Linked DNA regions of Homo sapiens. The protein of the gene in region 3 purifies or fractionates together with the protein of the main gene of each other region. This does not show direct contact. Each region holds a gene or a part of one and is shown on either strand. Other genes may lie near its edges.

Evidence for each region.
Region 1: the proteins of PACSIN3 (region 3) and COBLL1 purify together in Homo sapiens (affinity purification with mass spectrometry; 4 studies listed by BioGRID and IntAct, with this or other methods). This does not show direct contact.
Region 2: the proteins of PACSIN3 (region 3) and MICALL1 purify together in Homo sapiens (affinity purification with mass spectrometry; 3 studies listed by BioGRID and IntAct, with this or other methods). This does not show direct contact.

The regions. Positions count from the first base shown.
Region 1 is NC_000002.12:164,838,824-164,845,836, forward strand, and holds the start of COBLL1 (cordon-bleu protein-like 1), read right to left. Parts: upstream 3,001-7,013; 5' UTR 2,887-3,000; intron 2,610-2,886; exon of another isoform or gene 2,424-2,609; coding exon of another isoform or gene 2,374-2,423; coding exon 2,333-2,373; intron 2,000-2,332; exon of another isoform or gene 1,926-1,999; intron 1-1,925.
Region 2 is NC_000022.11:37,901,556-37,909,296, reverse strand, and holds the start of MICALL1 (MICAL-like protein 1), read right to left. Parts: upstream 3,001-7,741; 5' UTR 2,875-3,000; coding exon 2,729-2,874; intron 2,467-2,728; exon of another isoform or gene 1,819-2,466; intron 1-1,818. UniProt on the Homo sapiens protein: Lipid-binding protein with higher affinity for phosphatidic acid, a lipid enriched in recycling endosome membranes. On endosome membranes, acts as a downstream effector of Rab proteins recruiting cytosolic proteins to regulate membrane tubulation.
Region 3 is NC_000011.10:47,183,421-47,191,175, forward strand, and holds the start of PACSIN3 (protein kinase C and casein kinase substrate in neurons protein 3), read right to left. Parts: upstream 3,015-7,755; 5' UTR 2,929-3,014; intron 2,428-2,928; exon of another isoform or gene 2,222-2,427; intron 1,956-2,221; exon of another isoform or gene 1,846-1,955; intron 1,315-1,845; exon of another isoform or gene 1,125-1,314; intron 1,078-1,124; exon of another isoform or gene 881-1,077; intron 1-880.

The DNA of each region.
Region 1 (7,013 bases), on a different chromosome or scaffold from region 3:
GTTTTATAGCAAGAAATTTATCTCCAAAACCTAACAATTATAACATATTAAGATTTCTGCCTGCCACTTCCCAAATACCCTTATCTAGATATTTTTCCCCCAGTTTAAACCTTTTATAATTTGGGTTTTTGAGAGAGAAGAGAAGCAATACTGAATATTAAATATTCAACAAATCTTATATGACAGGCATTCGGAATATGCCAAAGGACAAGTTAGACAAGTGAAATAAGACAAATGAAGTAGAGAGGTAATTTTTTCATGTTGATATTTTTCAGGTAATGATAACTTCTCTGAGTAGAATAATGTAAGGCAAAATGATAGAACTACTGTGTTATTTTAGATAAGGTGTTGACAGATTTTCCCTACTTAAATTTGAAAAGGGGACGGCAAAAGTCCTTTACAAATGCTTGACAAATTAGATAAGGCTCTTTTGTACTTTCTTTTTAAGCAAAGAACTTATCAGTTTAACCTTTAAATTCTCAAAAGTGGCTGGGCGCACTGGCTCATACTGGTAAACCCAACACTTTGGGAAGCCAAGGTGAGAGGATTGCTTGAAGCCTGGGGTTTCGGATCAACTAGGCAACATAGCAAGACCTTGTCTCTACATTAAAATAAAATATCAAGAGTAAAGTCTGAAGGTTCTTACTACAGTTATGCTTGCCAGCAAAAAGTGTTCTTCTGTTTCTTCAACACAGAGCCATCTGACCTCACCTATTTTACTTAAAAGTCCCCAGTGACTTCTGAACACCCATGGGTGTATTTTGTGAAAGCAGGTATGTTTTTCTTTCTTTTTTGTTTTTTAAAGTACCTTAACCTAATCCATTTCCAAATCCAATTTAATTCTATCTCATTTTGCAATCCCTGAATACATTTCGGTATCCTGACAGCTGTCTCATCGTCAATTCACATAATTTTGCAGCTCCACTTAGGAACCTTGCTTGTATGCTCAATATCTTTCTACCGATATATTTCTTTACTCATCCTAATGTGAGAATATATGTCAGGATATATGAAAATATTTAAGCAATGAAAAACCTGGGGAAAGAAAAGAAATGAAAGTCAACAGTGGGAGTAATATTTGCAGAAAGGAGAAAGTTAATTTGAGCAAAATGAAATAATTAATACACTACATGTTTCCTCTATGTAAAAATTATACTAAATATCTTTTAGATTAGTCATGTTGCTTTGAGACTTTTCCATGTTTCCTCTAGACAGCTGCCAATGTTCGCATGGTCTCTGATGAATAAACATGCTGTGACTTGCTTCTAAGGAAACGCCTGTCATGTTCCAGGGAAAAATGACTTCTACACTCTTAAATCAGGAAAACTGTACAAGTCTCATTCATTAGTGACAACGTCGATTTTTCCTTAACGTTTCTATTTCTGGAATGCTCGTATTCTCATTAGGGCATTTCTGCATTCAGATTAACTAAGAAAATAAACTATGTTGGAGGAACACTTATGCTGGGGGGAAAAATCTTGTACTACATCAAACGAGTTTCCTACTTGAGAAACTCAACTAGCATCCAGGTTACTCCTGAACTATTTACTAAGACCAAGGTTATTTTCAGGTTTTCTTCATCTCTTGCAGAACTACCTGTTCTCATTACTGTTTACTCAAACGCTTAACAAGGTAACTATTAGCATATCTGGCAGGAAGACATGCCTCATTTAATATTAACTCACCATGTGACAGCCCCCTTCCTCTCTTCTCAAACATGTGAGGATAAAAAGAAAAGTAGAGTTGTTTGCAATCTGATTTGCGCTGGGTTTTGGAACCAGCAATTGGCCACAGGCACACACACCCCCAATCAGAGGCGCGCACCCCGCTCGCTCCCGGAACTGTCATGCGGGCTGACAGCTGGCACACCCTCCTGTCGCCCTCCACCCGCCTGCAGAAAGCCCACTCCCTACAGTCACCTTGACATTGCTCACCTGCCTGGGCCTCAGCCCATGACCAAGGAAACTTTTGCCCTCCCTCCCCAGGAGCTCACTTACAGGTATCGTCCACCGCTCCCCCAGAGCCCAAACAAGGGTCCCTTTGTTACAATTTTTGCTCCCGGACTCCTCACCCAATTCCTGGCATTCAGCTGGCCTGTAGCAACCCAGGGCAGCCCCGGTAGGAAGGCAACCAAAAACGACCCGAGCCCTCCGCCCGGGCGGCCTCCGAGAAGGCCGGGAGGAAGCAGCCTCCCCGGCCGCGTGGAGGACAGTCAGTGAGTCAGGCCGCCGGCAGGGCAGCGAGTTGCCAGCCAGGTGAAACGGCCGAGGCCTCGCTGTCCTCGCCGGCCTCGCCCTCCCCGGTGAGAGGCGGCGCGGCGCTCTGGGCTTACCTGGCTGGGGCGTCCTGCGGGCGCGGGGTTCGGCCGTCCATCGCCCTGCGGGGCGCTGCGCGGGCTCCAGCTCCCAGGCGGCGCGTCACTGCTGGGGTGGGAGAGGCCGGCGGGTCAGGGCGGGACGCGCGCCTTCCCGAGGCCGGAGCGAAGCTGGCTGAGCGTCAAGAGCCCGCCCGAGCCGCTCCAGCCCCGGCCGGCCCGCCTCCCGGGTGCGCTTCCACCTGCGGGCCCCGGCTCCCAGCCCGCGGGCGCCGCCGCCGTCTCTACAAGGTCTAGCGGGCGCCCAGAGCACGGCGGAGGAGGCGGTGGCGCTGCAGCCCCCGCCCCGTGGGGTTTACTGGGTAGCCATTTGGCGCCTCTCGGAGGGAGAGGAGCCGCCGGGGCTGGAAAAGGAGGAGGAGCGGGGCCGGGCGCACGGGCACCGCTGCCACGCCGGCAGCGCACTCCCAGGCTCCTCCGGCCGAGTTTGCACAAACAAAACGCCCTAGGAAAACTTTTCCCGAAGAGAAGTTGGGAGGGCTGATCTCTCTTTTCCCACCCAAGGCTCCTACGTTCTTTTCCAAAGGAGACAGTAGCTCGCCTGTTCTCCCTCGCGGCTTCCTCTCCTACTCTTCCCTTCCCCGGCCCGCGCTCTTGCCGCTCGGCTCTCAAGCCAGGACTTGAATGGAGAAGCGGCAACCCCTGCGAGGCTCAGCCCAGCGCGGGCAGGGCCGACTCAGCACCTCCCCTGTCCCGCGGGCGGGGTGCGGGCGCTGGCTGGGCGCTGGGGGCCTCGCTGGAGCCCGCTCTCTCACTCACCCTGCCCCATTTCCCTGCCCGGAGTCCGGGAGCTCGCCGCCGCCTCTGCAGCACGGCCGCACATAAGTGGGGACCAGCTCGGCGGCATTGGAGCGAGGGAAGCAGCGAGCCGGAGAGAGGAACGGGGCGGGGGTGGGCCGGGAGCAAGTTGGAATTTCCTTCCCCCAGGGCTTCGGGTCTTTGGGGTCCGGCTGGGGAAGCTGAACCGAAAGAAAGCTCCCAGACGAGGTGTTCCCATTCCCACCGCTAGGCTGCGCTTCGGGAAGGCTGGTGCGCCTGAACCGGACAGGTGCGGGGGAAGGGAGGTTACCTGCCTTGCCAGGATCCGCGGGGAGGATTGGGGCCTCCGCGGAATGCGGTCAGAAACTCGCAGAGTGGGGCCTGCAGCTTGCCCCCCCTAGAGTCCGACCCTCGACGTCCAGGATCGTTTTTTTAAATTTGTGTTTTTAACTTGACCTTTAAGATTGCCATTCTTTTAAAAGCGCACCTGTGACACAGATCTTTCTAATTGGTGGCAGGTTTAAGCTTGCCCTGTCTTCAGAGGCATTTTTTGTAAAAGCCTATAACAGCTCTGACATGAGAACTGGACAACAGTATGTCTAATGACAGTCTATAAACTAAGAATTAAGTAATAGATTGTATTCACTTATTGGAACTTTTACAAGGGTAAAGGAATCAGACACAGCTGTGTGCTTGTTTGTACGTTTTAGTATCCACGTGCATGCCCTTTAGATGATTCTTTACACCTGACAGACAGGTACTAGGTTGGTGCAAAAGTAACTGCGGTTTTTGCCATTTTTTTTTTTTTTAAAAAGTAATGACAAAACCGCAATTACTTTTGCACCACCCTAATATATTTACATATTTTATATTTTTCATAAGCGCCAATTGTTTTAAGATGCGCGCCATTCTGATGGGCCCAAAAATGTGTTTTCAGAAAACAACGTGACATTAAGAAATGAATTTAAAATTAGAGTTTTAAAAACATATTTGGATTAAACTGATGGAGAGATCTTACAGGAAGGAACATCCTGCAGGGGACTTCTGTTGTAGCACTAACATCAAGTAATAAACCTGTGTTAGCCACTGATAGAATAACATTTGGCAGGTATTACAATTAAATTGATATTAATGCTCCTTTAGTTGGTTATCCATTGCAGCAACAAAAAAAGATTGCTGAACTAAATGCCTAGCAATGTGCCATTTGTCTACCACACGCAGGCATTGGTATTTATTTCTTTCAGTGCATAATGTCCTTTCAGTGCATCTTAAATATGAAAAGAAAAAAACACATGGCTCATTTGGATTACAATACTGGAACCATATTAGAAAAAGTTGCTTTTAGAGATTTTAACTAAGAGTAAAGCAATTTATTTAAATACCTCTGGGTTTTAGTCTTTAAACAATAACTCTGTTTAAACAATTTCATGAATCATTTATGCTTCTGAATACAGAGCTGTGCAAGCTTTTACAGTTGCTTGCACAGACAATGATGCAAATATTGAGTAACAGTGAAACTACTTGAAAGTCCATAACTTTCAATCACAAGACAAGATTAAATCTTTAATTAGTTTCAGCCTTAATTTATGACATACTAGTAATATTATGGACCCTAATACCAGTAAGATTAGGCTAATCTTAGTCATAAAACATTCATAACATTTCGTAACCACTGAAGGCATTTTCAGTGCTTACCACTTTTTGCTGTCCTCCTTCTGGTCCTAGGGAGAACTATATGCTCCACCCCATGGAAATTAGGTATGACCCTGTGACTTTGATAAGTGGAAATGTGAACAGACATGAAATGCTTTATTTCCTGGTGAAATTACTGCCAGTGTTTGAGTCTCTATGTTCCCTTCCTTTGCTACTGCAATCATGAAAGCATGTATTAAAATGAAGGTGACACAAGACTGGAATGCTAAACTATTACCCAGAGCACAGCTGCCCTGGAGAGTCCCAGGACCTACAACAGAATCCACATAAGCAAGAAATAAGCTCATGTTGGGCAAAACCACTTAAGAGCACCACCAAGCTTGGTGGTCTTCACATAATGGTACTAAGCTATCCTCACTGTAGCCAGTGATTAGCAAAATAATAATCACAGATTTGCTATAAATCTTTTTTTTTTTTTTTTTTTTTTTTTTGGAGAAGGAGTCTTGTTCCTGTTGCCCAGGCTGGAGTGCAGTGATGCGATCTCGGCTCACTGCAACCTCCATCTCTGGGGTTCAAGTGATTCTCCTGCCTCAGCCTCCCGAGTAGCTGGGATTACAGGTGACCACCACCACGCCTGGCTAATTTTTATATTTTTAGTAGAGACAAGGTTTCACCATGTTGGCCAGGCTGGTCTCGAACTCCTGGCCTCAGGTGATCTGCCCACCACAGCCTCCCAAAGTGCTGGAATTACAGGCATAAGCCACCATGCCTGGCTGCTATAAATCTTTTCACATAACAGGAGAAAACTGCTGTTTTCCAATCTTTCTAGTTATGCAGAGCTGTTTCAAAATTGCCCACGTTTCCAAGATTGCGCTCAATTTCCCCGTTTGGGAATCTCCCCCTCATTTCACCACCCAGCCGATCATTTTAAGTGCCTAAGCATAGGTATTATCCCCTCAGGAATACTTCCCTCATTGCAGAAATAGAAGTAGCCCTTCCCTTTCTTGGCCCCCAGTAGGTTCTGTTAGGTAGGGCAAGGACCCATGACACTTTGTTTCAGTTATTCATTTACATAATGCAGAGTTGGAGGGGTTTATTCTCTTTTTTTTTTTTTTTTGAGACAGAGTCTCACTGTCACCCAGGCTGGACTGCAGTGGCATGATCTTGGCTCACTGTAACCTCCACCACCCAGGATCAAGTGATTCTCCTGCCTCAGCCTCCCGAATAGCTGGGACTACAGGCATGTGCCACGTGCCCGGCTAATTTTTTATATTTTTAGCAGAGATGGGGTTTTACCATGTTGGCCAGGCTGGTCTTGAACTCCTGACCTTGTGATCCGCCTGCCTCGGCCTCCCAAAGTGCTGGGATTATAGGCGTGAGCCACAGTGCCCAGCCTACTCTTAAAGGACCACGTCTTATCCTTTGTCTCCTGAAAGCATAGCCCAGAACACAGGAGACTCTCCACCAGTATTTGTGTACTGAATAAAGGAATGAAGGAAACCTTCAGGCCTTCCCTCCTCAGAAGAATCCTAAAAGGAACTTGATTCAGGGAAAGACTTCAACTCAAAGGGGCTGGTAGGCCATTTTAAATGGAACAGATGGAAGGTGAGTTTGTCTTACTAGAGAAAGAAGACTTATTCTTCACGTGGTTACCTAATGGGGTTAGTACCAAAATCAATGGGTAGAATGAAGCTAAATGAAGGTCCACTTAGCTATATATCTCTCTGAATAATAATCTAGGTTTCATATTCCTCCTGGATAGTAATAAATGGAAAGGAGGTTTACATGCTTAATAAATACCTGTGTGCTTATATAAAAAGCAGATAGGCATGTTAAAGTGGGCCATAATGGTTGGAGTTTGTCTAAAATTTTTGTAAACTATTTGGAATAATGAAAACATTTTTAAATGCTTATTTTAAGTATGTTTTTATTCCACTATAAGTACCACTTGAAAAGCTTTATTTAAAACTGAAAAATTACACTTAAAAGATGGTTAATATCTTTCTGTGCATTTCACCTTTGCACATTACAACCTAAAGGAAGTGTTTATTTTATGTCTTCTTAGATTGTGTACATGTGTGTGTTTGTGGTTTTATATAACAAGATCAGAGTTGTTACATTTCAGTTTTAATAAAAGTCTTATTTCAGACTTTGTATTTCATAGAAACTGCCCAATCTCAGAAAATATGTTATGTTATTTATGCATAAGACTTTGTTGATGAAAACA
Region 2 (7,741 bases), on a different chromosome or scaffold from region 3:
GGATCACCTGAGGTCAGGAGTTCGAGACCAGCCTGGCCAACATGGTGAAACCCCATCTCTACTAAAAACTACAAAAATTAGCCAGGCATGGTGGTGCGTGCCTGTAATCCCAGCTACTTGGGAGGCTGAGGCAGGAGAATCGCTTGAATCCGGGAGGCAGAGGTTGTGGTGAGCCGAGATCACGCCACTGCACTCCAGCCTGGGTGACAGGCCTCCATCTCAAAAAAACAAAAACAAAAACAAAAAAAACCCTGCATGGTTCCCTGAGGCCCCTATCCATGCTCCTTAGCCAGCAAAAGCAGCTGTCAGCCATCTGTCCCAACTGCATCTCCCAACTCGCTACCTTGTGCTCCCCACTCAGCTACACAGCCTCCAGCTTTGCACACACCTCCCGCCCCTTGCCTTTGCTCAGATGGGGTCCCATGCCAGAACGTCCACCCAGCAGCCCTCACCTGGCTCCTGCCATCTCCTTGAAGACTATATTCTCCCTAGGAGGTCTCCCACCCCCAGCCCTCTGATAGGGTACATGGAATTGCCATCATCGTTTATACACGTTTCCCCTACAGGTGTGGGAGAGCGTGTAGGGTTGCCTGTTTTGTCGATTGGTACTTCCATTACCAGGTACAGTGTCCAGCACAGAGCAATATGACTCTACAAATACTGGTTGAATAAATGAAGAAATCAAACATTGTTATTGGGCCAGGCATGGTGGCTCATGCCTGTAATCCCAGCATTTTGGGAGGCTGAGGTAGGCAGATTACTTGAGCTCAAGAGTTCAAGACCAGCCTGGGCAACATGGTGAAAACCCATCTCTACAAATACAAACAAATTAGACAGGCGTGGTGGCGTGTGCCTGTGGTCCCAGCTACTAGGGAGGTTGAGGTGGGAGGATTGCTTGAGCCCGGGAGGTGGGGGCTGCAGTGAGCCATGACTGTGCCACTGCACTCCAGCCTGGGTGACAGAGTGAGACCCCATCTCAAAAAAATAAAAAACATTAAAAAAAAAAAAAGTAACATTAGTTACTCACAGTAACTAATGTTAAATGAATGCTTGTTATCTCATGCAATCCTCACATTTCTGTGAGCTGTGTCACATTATCAATCCCACCTCACAGATGAGGACACTGATGCCTGGAGAGAGCCCATGAGGACCCAAGGCCATGCGCCTAAGACATGGAGAAGCTAAACACAAACCAGGCGGCCTTTATTTACTTTGATGCCACCAGGCTCAGGCCCACCAAATGGCTTCACTTCACACCCAAGTCCCCTCCCACACTGGGTTTGTCCCTGCTTCCTGCCTCACTCCTGCCCCTCAAACAAAACAGAAGACCCCTTGGGCCCTCCCTTCCAATGCCCAGGTCTAACCCTGGTGCCCTTTTCCTCCATCCTTCTACCCCCTGCTCCTGGGCAACCAGGCATCAACCTTGTGCTTCCATTAGTATGGGTGTCACATGCCCCACAGCGGGCAGGGGCCCACCTACATGACCACCTCATCTTGTTCCCTTCTGTATCCACAGCCCCAAAACCCTCTCCTCCAGGGCCCAAGCCACCACCCACAGACACGGTACTGCAGGGTACATACAGGTAAACCAGGTGCACCTGCATCATGGAATCCTGAGGCAATCCCTTAGAAGCCTTCCCACATGCTGCCCTCGGACAGTGCAAATCTGGAGGTGGAACAGGCACAGAAAGCCTCCATCTGCCAGGCTGGGGGAGCCCTGGCAAGAGGGCTGCATGCGAAAGGGGTAGGGACCAGAACTCTCCTCCCTGATTCACAGGTGAGACCTGAAGTGCAAGGAATGGCACCAGATAAACTCACCCAGTGTTTTAGGAATGAAGGGACGAAAGGAGGAGAGGTTCCAGGGCTCAAGGCAGAGAGAGCAAAGACAGAGGCTCCAAGTCAACTGTTCCGGGGAGTCTGAATGCATTTTCCCATGAGAACCTCATTGGGCAGCTCTGGGCAGGAAGGGGCCATTTCACAACCTGCAGCACCCGGTTGGTGTCTATCAATCGGATCCTAGGAGTCTTCCCAACATTGCCGGCCTGTGACTCCTCTTGCGCGCCCCACCTGCGTGCCCCACTGAGGAGGGCTGCAGGGCCATCGAGCACACACCCGGGAGGCAGGGCTGCGTCCTAAGTTGGGGGGCGTGGGGAAAGCACAGGGTCTGTACATCCATTCATCCAACACCTGTTAGCCGAGGTCTCCTCTGTGCCGGGAACTGTGCTACTGTCCGGAGACAAGCTCCTATTTGGGGGTCAGAGAAGTGGGGGTTCACCTGCACACCCGGAGCAAGGGGCCACCCCGAGTGGGAAGCCTCGGGGGAGAGGGGAGGCCCGGCGAGCCCGTGGAGAAGAGTTTAGGGTAGGAGAGGCCCAGGGCCCCCAAAGAGGGCTCAACACCCCTTCAAAGAGGTCAAGGGCTTAGGGGTTCAGCGATCCTCGGCGGAAATCAGCGCTTTGTGGGCGGGGCCAGTGTCCCCGCGGAGGGACCAGCCTCGGGGGAGAGTTCGGGATCCCACGGGCGGGGTCAGGGCGGCCGGGCGGGGGAGGGGCGCCCTGGGCCGGGGTCTCAGGGACCCGCCCGGCGTCCGGGGCCGTCGGGGGGGTCGGCGTCTCCGTGTCCGGGGGCGGCGCCTGTCACCGCCCGGGCTTCGTGTTACTGAGGGGGGGCGGCGGTCGCGGCCCCAGCCCGCCCCGCGCCGCCCGCTCGCCCGGGGCCCCGCACTCACAGCAGGTCGGGCCGGTGCCGGTGCAGGATGGCGCAGAAGGCCAGGCCGTCCCGGAAGGAGCTGCTCAGGTCGCGGATCTCCACGCCGCGGTAGCCCTCGCACTGGCGGCGGCACCAGGCCAGCAGCGCGCCCCGCGGCCCAGCCATGACCCCGCGGCCCGCCCGGCTCCGGCTCTGGCTTCGGGGCCCCGGCTTGGCCGGGACGGCGGCCGCCGCGCGGGCCCGGTTTCCGGCTGCGGCTGCGGCTCCGAGCTCGGGCGCCGACCGGCAGGCGAGGGGAGGGGCGGAGGCGGGGCCGCGGTGTCCTCGCTCGGGCGCCCCGCGGCCCTGCCCTAACCTGCCCGAGCAGCGCCGCCGCGTGGCCCGGCCCGGCCGGCCGCCGCCTACTCCGCGCTGCCCGCTCGCCTCATTGTGGGCCGGTCGTGGGAGCGGGCGTCCCGCCGCCTCCGTCCGCGCCGGAGGCGCGCCCCACCCAGCAGCAGCTCCGCCTCCAGTGCGGAGCCCACCCCTACCAAGACGGGCCGGCGCCCCATCGCCCGCCCCTCGACGGCGCCGGGCTCCCGCTGCTCCACTGGGTGCCCGCGAAGCCCCCGCACCCGCCGCAAGCGGACCACTCCCCACGATGACTTCACCGCCGCGGCCGCCGCCGCGCCACCCACCGGGAGCCCTCCACCCTTTGGAGGCGGGACACCTCGTGCTCCCATCCGGCCTCCTTCCCGCTCCTAATGACCGCAAATCCCCCCTTCCACCCCTAGCTTGAAACTTTGGGGAGGCAGTTCCCCTGCAGACCTCAGAGCACCCCCCCCCGGATAGCCACCAGCTTCCCTCATCCCGGCTCCCCACCCTAAAGCACCGCTGAGCTGGAAGTTGTCATGTCCACCATCCCCTCCCCCATAGCTTGGCAGGGAGACCCATGCGCCCCTCCGCCACCTTTGGTCCAGGTGTCCCCTAGGTGATTCACTGAGCTCCCCTCAGCCCCTGTGTAAGCTCAGGGATCTCGTCCCTCCCCACTGCGGCCTGCCGGGTCCCCTCAGCCATGGTTAGTGTGGTGGTGGTTTGAGTTCCTATGGGAAGGACCTAGGCCAAGGAGGCCCCTGCCTGGGAGGCATACAGGCAGTTTGTATCTGGCCCTGGAACCTCCCCAAGGCTCATTCTCTATCTTTGCCGTCTTCAAAACCCCCGCCAGCCAACCGACCCTTCCAGCCAGCCAACCCTTCCAGCCAGCCGACCCTTCCGCAGAGGCCCCTCCTGACTCTCCCACAGATGAATCAGCCTCCATCTGCTGCAGAGGTGGTGATGTCACCCTGACCCATGCAATAGTTAGCTGGAGTGGGTATTTCGCTCCCTCCCAAGGGAAGGAACAGGGTCTTAGTCATCTTCATCACCCCTGAGCACTCAGGGGAGTGGAAAGATCAGGCATTTTGGAGCCCTATTAACCCAATCTCCAATCCTGGCTTTCCCCACTCCCTTAGTCATGTGATCTTGTGCCTCCCTGGACCTCAGTTTCCACGACTTAAAAATGGAGATAATACCTGCTTTACAAGGTGGCTGAGAGGATTAAGATGTAAAGTGCCTTACCCTTTAGTTATCACTCATAAATTCTATTGACTCCTGGTACTTGGTAAACATGATGAAATGGACTGAAATATTTTGTACCCAGATTGTCATCTGGGCCATTCTGGGTAAATTATCAAGGAGAGAGGCCGACTTAGGGAATTCTACCTCTTCAAAGTCCACTGAGTCCCAGTCCAGAATACTGGCCCAGGGCCTGGAGAACCCAGCTTGCCAATCTGGGCTGGCCTAACACTCCTGCAACTGGAAGGCCGCCATCTTGGCTCAGTATATGGACTCTCAGGCCACCTAGGAAGAGCATGGCCAGAGTGCCTGGCTAGCCCTCTGGACTTCTCACCAGCCCTGAGCTGCCAACTCCTGCCCTGTCCCCTGTGGGATAACAGTGGCAGGAAAGCAGGATTCCGGATGCTTTTTATGAAATCAGGGACTTGGGTTCAGGATCCTGACACCAGCATCCACCTAGGCCTTCAAAGACCACCCAGGACTCTCATTAAAACCTAAGGGGGGCGGGGTTGGGCACCATGGCTCATACCTGTAATCCCAGCATTTTGGGAGGCCGAGGCAGGTGGATCACCTGAGGTCAAGAGCTTGAGAACAGCCTGGCCAACATAGTGAAACCCCGTCTGTACTAAAAATACAAAAAATTGGGCCAGGCGCGGTGGCTCACTGTAATCCCAGCACTTTGGGAGGCCAAGGTGGGCGGATCATGAGGTCAGGAGTTCAAGACCAGCCTGGCTAAGATGGTGAAAGCCCGTGTCTACTAAAAATAAAAAAATTAGCCAGGCGTGGTGGCACGTGCCTATAGTCCCAGCTACTCGAGAGGCTGAGGCAGGACAATCGCTTGAACCTGGGAGGCGGAGGTTGCAGTGAGCCAAGATCACGCCACTGTACTCCAACCTGGGGGACACAGCGAGACTCCATCTCAAAGATGGTGGGTTTTTTTGGCTCACGCCTGTAATCCCAGCACTTTGGGAGGCCAAGGCAGGCAGATCACGAGGTCAGGAGATCGAGACCAGCCTGGCTAACACGGTGAAACCTCATCTCTACTAAAAATACAAAAAATTAGCTGGGCGTGGTGGCACACACCTGTAATCCCAGCAGGAGAATGGCTTGAACCCGGGAGGTGGAGGACGCAGTGAGCTGAGATCGCACCACTGCACTCCAGCCTGGGCAACAGAGTGAGATTCCATTTAAAAAACAAAAAACCAAAAACAAACAAAAGAAACCAGGAGGGATTATAGCCCTGTCCTCACTAGCCTAAAGGGCTCCCTTTAGGTCCCTGAAGACAGCTCCATATCTGATCCTGTTGCCATACTAATAGCTTACACAGCACAGCCTGGTCACCCCCATTAGCCATTTGTGGGCTTTATAAACTCATTATCTGAGTCAGCTCACAATGTTTCGAAGTAAGGACCTGTACGACCACAGTGTGTGACCGCAGGCCAGACAACTCACCCTCATGAACCCCAATTTCTTACCCTATAAAATGAGGATGATAATACTTGCTTTGCCTGAATCCCAGGGTTGTGGGTAACAAGGTGAGATAATGGATGAGAAAATGCTGTGCAGACTGTAAATCCAGGGTTCAGGTGGAAGGTGGGTCTGTGTGTTTACAGGTGAGATCAGAAGCCACAGAGATAGGTGAGTAGGGCACTTGCCCAAAATCATGCTATAATTTCGGGATTAGAATTGAGAGACTTGGGCCCTTAATTCAGTGCTGTTTTGTTTTATTTTTAACTATCAATTAAGAAATGGGGCCAGGCACGGTGGCTCATGCCTGTAATCCCAACACTTTGGGAGCCAAGGCCAGGAGTTCAAGACTAAACCAGCCTGGGCAATATAGGGAGACCCTGTCTTTTTTTGAGACGAGTCTCTCTCGCCCAGGCTGGAGTGCAGTGGCACGATCTCGGTTCACTGCAACTTTCATCTCCCAGGTTCAAGTGATTCTCCTGCCTCAGCCTCCCTAGTAGCTGGGATTATAGGCATGGGCCACCAAGCTCAGCTAATTTTTGTATTTTTAGTAGAGACACAGTTTCGCCATGTTGGCCAGGCTGATCTCAAACTCCTGAGTTTAAGTGATGTGCCCACCTCAGCCTCCCAAAGTGCTGGGATTACAGGCATGAGCCACCATGCCCAGCCTGAATACATCATTCTTATCAAAAATTTAAAAATAAATCTAAAGTTCCAGTTTGACTGTCTCCTTCAACTCTAGTCCCCTCCTAAGAAGTAGCTGCAGTTGTCGGTGTGAAACAGCCTTCCACACCTTGTTCACACATTTATAGTCAAGCATGGATTCAACAATATTTACTGAGCACCTGTTGGGGGCCAGGAGCTGTAAACAAGTAAACAACAAGGAGGCCGGGCACAGTGGCACACCCTGTAATCCCAGCACTTCGGGAGGCTGAAGCAGGTGGATCACTTGAGGTCAGGAATTCAAGACCAGCCTGGCCCACATGGTGAAAATCCGTCTTTACTAAAAATACAAAAATTAGCCAGGTGTGGTGGCACACACCTGTAATCCCAGCTACTCAGGAGGCTGAGGCAGGAGAATTGCTTGCACCAGGGAGGAGAGGTTGCAGTGAACTGACACTGCGCCACTGCCCTCCAGTCTGGGCGACAAAGTGAGACTCTGTCTCAAAAAACACAAAAAACAAAAAACAGGCTGGGCGCAGTGGCTCACGCCTGTAATCCCAGCACTTTGGGAGGCTGAGGCGGGTGGATCATTTGAGGTCAGTAGTTTGAAACCAGCCTGGTCAACATGGTGAAACCCCATCTCTACTAAAAATACAAAAATTAGCTGGGTGTGGTGTGTGCCTGTAATTCCAGCTACTCGGGAGGCTGAGACAGGAGAATCACTTGAGCCTGGGGAGGCGGAGGTTGCAGTGAGCCAAGATCGTGCCATTGTCCTCCAGTCTGGGCAACAGAGTGAGACCCTGTCTCAAAACAAAACAAAACAAAAACAAGGAGAACCTCAGGTGGTGACTGGTGCTGTGACAGAGAATGATGGGGACAGATAGCATAGCCAGGGAACACCTCTTTGAGATGGTAACATCATTTAGGCTGAAGAACACCTAACTCCCAGGGAAGCAAGCTGAATGCAAACAGGTGAGAGCTGTCAGTATAGGTAGAGTTTGAATCCTTTCTCTCTTTTTTTGAGACAGGGTTTCACTTTGTCTCCCAGGCTGGGTGCACTGGCACAATCACGGCTCACTGCAGCCTCCACCTCCTGGAGTCAAGCGATCCTCCCACCTCAGCTTCCCGAGCAGTTGGCACTAACAGGCATGCACCACCACACCCAGATAATTTTGTTTATTTTTTGTAGAGACGGGAGTCTCACTATGTTGCCCAGGCTGATCTTGAACTCCTGGACTCAAGCAATCCACCTGCTTTGGCCTCGCAAAATGCTGAAGTTATATGCACAAGCCCCTGCATCTGGCTGAAT
Region 3 (7,755 bases):
GGCTTCTGTGTTGGCCAGGAAGCCCGAACAAGTGTATGTAACTGTCTCCTCCTAAGGAGGCCCCAGCTCCCTCTAAGATGGAACTCCTCTGTGTGCTCAGCTGCCATGCCAGGGCTGGTGTGAAACTCAAACCAAGCAACGCACCAGAAATACGAGGGGCCCTGCAGTCACGGAAGATACTCATCTCACTCCACACATCCACTGAGGGCCCGCAAGGCTCCGTGGGGAACACACAACCCGGGCCTGCCCTCCAAAGGCCTGGCGTCCAGGGCAGCATGGGGAAGTGAGAAGCGATGGCCAACTATAAGAATGTCTCCCAGGCTGGGTGTGGTGGCTCACGCCTGTAATCTCAGCACTTTGGGAGACTGAGGTGGGTGGATCACCTGAGGTCAGGAGTTCCAGACCAGCTTGGCCAACATGGAGGAACCTCGTCTCTACTAAAAATATAAAAATTAGCCAGGCGTGGTGGCGGGAACCTGTAGTCCCAGCTACTTAGGAGGCTGAGGCATGAGAATCACTTGAACCTAGGAGGCGGAGGAGGTTGCGGTGAGCAGAGATTATACCACCGCCTGGGCAACAGAGTGAGACTGTCTCAAAAAAAAAAAAAAAAGTTCCCTAGAATCGCAGAGGACGGCAAGCCAATTCCAACCCCAGAGCCATGGCCCCAGGGACTCAAGGACACAGTGGCATGTGGCTGCTCCCCTCCTGCCTCTGGGCAGGGTCTCAGCTGTCCCCAGCACTGACTGACTCACAGACCCTAGAAGGAAATCGCTTCCTCTCTGAGCAGGCCCAAGGGACACAGCCAGACCCAGGAGGACAGTGTGCGCCCTTTGTCCCCAAAGCAGGGCGCTGTCACAGCGCTTCCTCCAAACTCATGCACCTCTGCTTCTCCTTCAAACCTCCAATTAAGGCATCTTCTCCTCAGTCACTTCCCCTGTTTCTCTGTCCTTGCTCCTGTAGCCCCGGGTGACCCTTCAGCCGGGGTGTATAACCCATGGAGTTGTGGCTGACAGGACAGTGTCTATCTTCAGTCACCGACAGAGGCTTCCAGGATTCTGATTTGTGTGTCCCCACGCGCTGGAATCAGCAATAATTAGTTAAGTGAGAAAAGAAGCGATGTCCACCTGGAGCGCAGGAAACGCGCCCGCTCCAGCAGCTGTGGGAATGCTTGGTCCAAGTGGGCTTCCCCCTCTGCTAACAGGAGACAGAGCTAGGGGCTCCGCGGAGACCCAGGCAATGGAGGTGCCCACCAGGGGCCTCACAAGCTCGTCACTTGGTTCCCTCTGCAGTGTGTCCTGTCTGCCCAGAAAGGACCTGACAGGGCGATGGAGAGAAAGAGAGCTGCTGCCATGAATCACAGGGCTCTGGAGCCGCCCCAGTCCAGCCTCAGGAGCCTGGGGCCCCTTGCCTGTTCCAGCCTCCGAGTTCCCTGCTCCCCAGAGAGCTGCCCCCCACCCCTTCCCTCTCTCTGGCCCCAGAACAGAGCAAGCTGTGTGTACCGGGCTGGCACAGCTCCCTCCGGCCTCCCAGAGCAAACACAGGCCCAAGCCCCGGGTGCAGCCAGGCCCCACAGCCCCAGCCTGACCTCTCAGCAAGCAAGCAAGGAGGGCTTGCACCTTGGCCCCCATTGAGCAGGTTGGCACCCTGTGCCTCCTGAGCTCAGCAGAGACCCAAATCAGTCCCCACCGCAGGCAAGAGCTCAGAAAGCAGGTAATGCAATCTTCCCAGCCCCGGGAGCCAGCACGTTCGGCTCCGAGAGGTCTTCCTGGGCTTGGCAGGGTCTCCTTGCAGCTGCACGGGCCAAGGTAGGAAGTCCCTGGTTCAGGGAAGACCCAGTCTCCCTACCTGAGGCCTGAAGGTACCCGGCCCCAGACCAGCCCCAACCTCTTCCAGAAGCTGGGGGCTTGCCCCTGGGAGGGAGCTCAGCCATTCTGCCTGGCCCATCCCTGGAACCTGAGTCACAGGCTGCGCCCAAGGGCTTCTTTCCCGGGCAGCCCCTCCCGGTGCGCCCGCAGCTCTAGGATTTGAGGACAGAGCGGGGGGGAGGGGAGGGGGCGTCAGTAGGCTGGTCCGAAGAGGGACAGCGAGGTTAGAGGGGCTGGAACCAGAAGCCAGAGCCAGCCAGGAGATCAGGAGGCTGGGGGAGGGGGTGGCGCAGCCAAAGCGGGAGGAGGCAGGGCCAGGGAGGGGCATAACAAAGGGGCACTTTTGGAAACCCGACCTGCCGGCCGGGGTGCCTGCTTCCAGATGACGCACTCCGAACCCCAGCCTCCACTCCAGAGCTCGGCGCCCAGAGGCTACGCGCCTCTGGCCTCAACCCTTATGGACCGCGCCCCTCGACAGGACCCCTTGCCGCCCGGAGCTGCATAACTCGGAGCCCGTGGAGCCACGCGGAGCGGCAGGGCCAGGCCTAGCCACCGAAGCTCTAGACTTCTTGGCCAAACTTGTTGAACTTGGTCTTGGCGGGGGTGGGGCCACTGATCACCGCCAAGGGGAGGGGACGCCCCCTGCCTGGGCCGGCCTTGCCGTGGGCTCCAGATGGTGGCCCCGGGCAGCGGACCCAGGAATCGGGGCTCGCTGCATAGGGCGAGGGATCGCCAGGGAGCGAGGACCCTCTGGGGCCTCGGGGCGGGCGCGAGGCGAGCGGACGGGGGCCCTCGAGGGGCCCCTGAAGACGGCTCAGCCCTCCAGCGCCGGCGCCGCCTCCCCCGGGCGGCCTGCGGAATTGCGAAGCCCGCGGCACCGCAGATGGGACGGCCCCTCGGCGCGGCTACGGCCCTTCCCGTCGGCACGCAGAGCGGGGTGGCCGGGGGCTCCCTGGGCGGGAGTCGGCTCCATTGCAAACTTCAGAAGCCGGAGCAGGAGAGGGCGGGCTCGAGCCACCGCACCCGCCGCCGCCTACCCGCGCGTCCCCTCCAGGGCACTCACCGCGTCCTCCCTGGGCCCCTCGGCGGGTGGGGGTCCGGCCACGCTCCGGCCCGAGTCCTGCCGCTCCTGGGCCCGCGCCGCGGCCTCCCGGAGCGCGCCGGGCCCTCCCCCGGGAAGCCCGGCCCCCGGCCCCCGGCCCCGCCCCTCTCCTGGCCGCCGCTGCCTCAACCCCACGCGGCGGGGCAGCGGGGCTGCAGGCATCGCGGCGACCAGCGGCTCTTGTGGCGCGGGTCGAGGTTTCTCTGCTTCGCCCGTGTGCGGAGTGCCTGGGCGGGCTCCCCAGGGTTGCGCCCCGGTGCCGCAGGGAGCCAGATTTCGGCTTTGCCTCTCCCGGACCGTTGCAGAGCCTGGGAGACCCGAGGGAGCAAGAAGGGACCGGGCCGGCACGGGCAGCCTTGGAGAGGGGCCGGGGGAATTACACTGCCTTACATTTTTAGCTGCACAGCTTGTTTAGAAATTGGCTCAGGCGAGGCTCACAACCACCCCTTGTAAGCATTAGGATTCCCACTGTACAGATGCAAAAACTGAGGCTCGGGGGCTTTTCAGAGGCTTGCCCAAGATTTCCCTCTAGTCAGGCAGGGCTGGGACTCCAAAACCGTGCCCTACCGTTCCACAGCTGCCCTGCTAATCTGGGGCGCCTTCTAAGGCCTGAGACGAACACGCGGTGGGGGTGGGACAAAAAGGCCTAAGCTCCTCCCGCTCCGAGTTCTTATTTCCAGATTTTGTACCACGATTCATTCTTACCCTTCGCCCCTCCACCCCCTTTATCAGTCTGGTACATTTTTCCATATCGCCACGATGCCACCCCACGCTAAATAAATCCCTTCTCCCTCCTCTCTCCCTACTTCCCTCTCCCCGCTTTCCCCCGGGGGTGAGATTTTGCAGAGCGGCTCCGTCTGTTATTTATATCCACTGGAGCGGTCCAAGAATGTTCCGAAGCTGACCTAATCGCCACCTGCTCGGCCTCTCCGCCCCTCCCACTCTCTCCTGGGCCCGGTGACCCAGCGGCGGTGCCCTGAGCCTTGAAGACCAGGGGGAGCGCGGACCAACGGGGTCGAACGCCCGGGCGCAGAAGGTCCCGGACGCAGAAGGTCCCGGGCGCGCAGAATCGCAGCGGGTCGGAGAGCCCCGGCGCTCTCAGAGGAGTGCGCCCCCAGGGACGCGGCTCTGAGCCCTGGGAAGCTGAGGCGCCTGGCTGCGCCCTCTGAAGCTCGTACTTTTCCTCCCACCCTCAGCTCCCTGAAGAGTGTGAGTGCGTGCGCGCGGAGTTTTAAACGGCAGCTTTAAAAATAGCAAAATTATGTTGTTTCTAAATCCAGGAGGAATCACTGACGCGTTCTTTACGCAGATGAATCCGCTCACAAAACGGGAAAGGGACCTGGAGAAAATGAATGGGGGTAATTTTGCCTGCCGAGGGCTCACTTGCTGGGCAGTGCTAATGGAAGGGTAAAACTGCCTCCCCAAGACACCTGTGGGGCACCCAAGGCGCGCCACCTTTGGCCTGAGGATTCTGGCCGTGTTTGGCAAATCATAGCTGAGTAGTGAATCTGAAACCTGGGATGTGGTTTCTGAGACCAATTTCAACACCCACTCTCTCTTAGGGCTTGGACAAGTCCCTTATCTCTATTTCTACCTCTATAAAACATGACAGGTGACCAGCTGACCTTCCGCTGAGCCATGAGCCCCAGCTAATTAATGATTGTAAAAAACAACTGCAGATCAGAGGAGCTGGGAAAATGGCAAATCACAGCCACAGGGTTTTGTATTCTTTAAAATCAGTTAACATCCCTCCTAGCGCCTGAAGGCCTTTAGGCACCTAGACCGAAGTGTGAAAACACAAGAATGAAATTAATTACAGGAGCCACCTATTAAAACCTCATTAAAAATAAAGTTGGCAGCCAGGCTGTGGGATCTGGGAAAGCCAGGCCATAGAGAGACTCAGAAAACAGGGCTGTTCATCAGACCACAAAGAGAAGGGGATGTGGACTGGAAAACATCTGGCTTCCCTTGGGCTCAAGTCTGGGAGCAGAAAGCAGAAATGTTGCAGCTGATCTTAATTGCCCCTGAGGTACTGTAGGGGAAAAAAAACAACAAAATAAAACCCAGAGCATAGGGGGCTGCTTCTAAGCTGAAAGTAGACAGACATGCCTTTGGAAAGCCAGCTCCAAGCTAATGCTACCCCCAGGGCTCCCATTCTGCGCTCTATGGCCAGAGCCCTTAACATCCACACTGCTCCATCAGTGCTGTCCTCAACCCAGAGTTCAAGATGAGATGTCAGTGGACAGAGGGCTGCATAAAGACAGAAATCTGGTCGGGCGCGGTGGCCCACGCCTGTAATCCCAGCATTTTGGGAGGCCGAGGCGGGTGGATCATCTGAGGTCAGGAGTTTGAGACCAGCCTGGCCAACATGGTGAAACCCCATCTCTACTAAAAATACAAAAATTAGCTGGGCATGGTGGCGGGTGCCTGTAATCCCAGCTACTTAGGAGGCTGAGGCAGGAGAATCGCTTGAACCTGGGAGGTGGAGGTTGCAGTGAGCTGAGATCGTGCCATTGCACTCCAGCCTGGGCGACAAGAACAAAACTCCATCTCAAAAAGAAAAAGAAAAAAAATGACAGAAATCTAAGGCTGGGCACAGTGGCTCACGCCTGTAATGCCAGCACTTTGTGAGGCTGAGGCAGGTGGATCACCTGAGGTCAGGAGTTCAAGACCAGCCTGGCCAATAATGAAACCCCATCTCTACTAAAAACACAAAAAAACTAGCAGGCGTGGTCGTGGACGCCTGTAGTCCCAGCTACTTGGGAGGCTGAGACAGGAGAATTGCTTGAACCCGGGAGGCTTAGGTAGCTGAGATTGCGCCACTGCTCTCCAGCCTGGTCGAAGGAAACTTTCTCTCAAAAAGAAAAAAAGACAAATCTAGCAAGGCATTTGGCTCAGGGTACCAATGGGCAGATTGGTCCATAGCCAGATTTCACGCCACTCACAGACTCACCTTGAGTTTCTGGAATATCCTAACCACTGTGCCTTCATTTGTTTATTTATGCATTCATTCACCCAGCCAAGAAAACACTTGAGTTTTTACTCCATGCTAAGGCTATGCTAGGAATGTTGGGAGTACAAAGTTAAATAAGGCAGAGTCCAAGTGTACCGTAATGATGCAAGGCAGATAGGAAGTATTGAGAGAAAACAGGCAGAAGGGACGGCCTTTCACAGGACATGACACTGATAGGTCTTGATGAGTAGGAATTAGTCACGTGGACAGGCATTCTAGGCAGGAGCTTCAGGGTGTGCCAAGCCCCAGGGGTGTTACCATATGACTTTGTGACCTAGCAATTCTACTTTTTGGTATTTACCCTGGACGAACATGTACAAATGCAGAAAGAGGTACAATGATGTTTGCATATAGTACTGTTTGCAACAGGGGAGAACTGAAAACAAATGTTCATCATGAAGGCAATAGTTGAACAACCTAAAGTTCATTCATGCTGTGGATTACTCTGCAAAAACTCAAGAACAAGCTAGAGGCAGGAGTTCGAGACCAGCCTGGCCAACAAAGTGAAACCCCTTCTCTACTAAAAATACAAAAATTAGCCAGGTGTGGTGGCGTGTGCCTTTAGTCCCAGCTACTTGGGAAGCTGAGACAGGAGAATCGCTTGAACCCAGGAGGCGGAGGTTGCAGTGAGCTGAGATTGCGCCATTGCACTCCAGCCTGGGAAGCGAGAGCAAAACTCCATCTCAAACAAAAACAAACCAAAAAAAAAAAAAAAAAAAAAAAAAGAACAAGGTAGAGAGAGACATATTCTTTTTTTTTTTTTTTCGAGACGGCGTCTTGCTCTGTCGCCCAGGCTGGAGTGTAATGGCGCAATCTCAGCTCACTGCAACCTCCACCTCCCGGGTTCAAGCGATTCTCCTGCCTCAGCCTCCTGAGTAGCTGGGATTACAGGCACGTGCCACCACGCCTGGCTAATTTTTGTATTTTTAGTAGAGACGGGGTTTCACCATGTTGGTCAGGCTGGGCTCAAACTCCTGACCTCATGATCCACCCGCCTTGGCCTCCCAAACTGCTGGGATTACAGACATGAGCCACCGCACCCAGCCAAGAGATGTATTCTTATAAGAAGACCTCCAAGACGATGTCAAGGGAAAAAAGCAAAATGCAAAACACACTAAATCTTCACAGAAAATATACTTCATACTGATTTTGGCGTTTATCTTTAGGCAGAGGTCTAGAATTGGTAAGGGACATTTTTGTAATGTTAGAAAATTTACAATGAGAATGTACCTATGTGTAAATTATGTAACTAAAATTAAAAACTGGGGGGTGGGCGAGTGGGTATTTGTATCTAAAATAGTGCTGTCCAATTATTTTCTGCAGTGGTGGGAATGTTCTATAGCTGTGCTGGCCAATATGATAGCCACTAGTAGCATGAGACTGTTGAGCACTTGAAATGTGGCTATTGAAAACATAAACTTGCCGGGTGCAGTGGCTCACGCCTGTAATCCCAGCACTTCGGGAGGCCGAGGTTGGGTGGATCACCTGAGGCTGGGAGTTCAAGACCAGCCTGACCAACATGGAGAAACCCCATCTCTACTATACAAAATTAGCCGGGCATGGTGGCTCATGCCTGTAATCCCAGCTACTCAGGAGGCTGAGGCAGGAGAATTGCTTGAACCTGGGAGGCGGAGGTTGTAGTGAGCTGGGATTGCTCCATTGCACTCCAGCCTGGGCAACAAGAGCGAAACTCCGTCTCAAAAAAAAAAGAGAAAACATAAACTTTTAATTAAAAAAAAATTTTTTTAACAACTGGTAATCAATTTATTAAAATT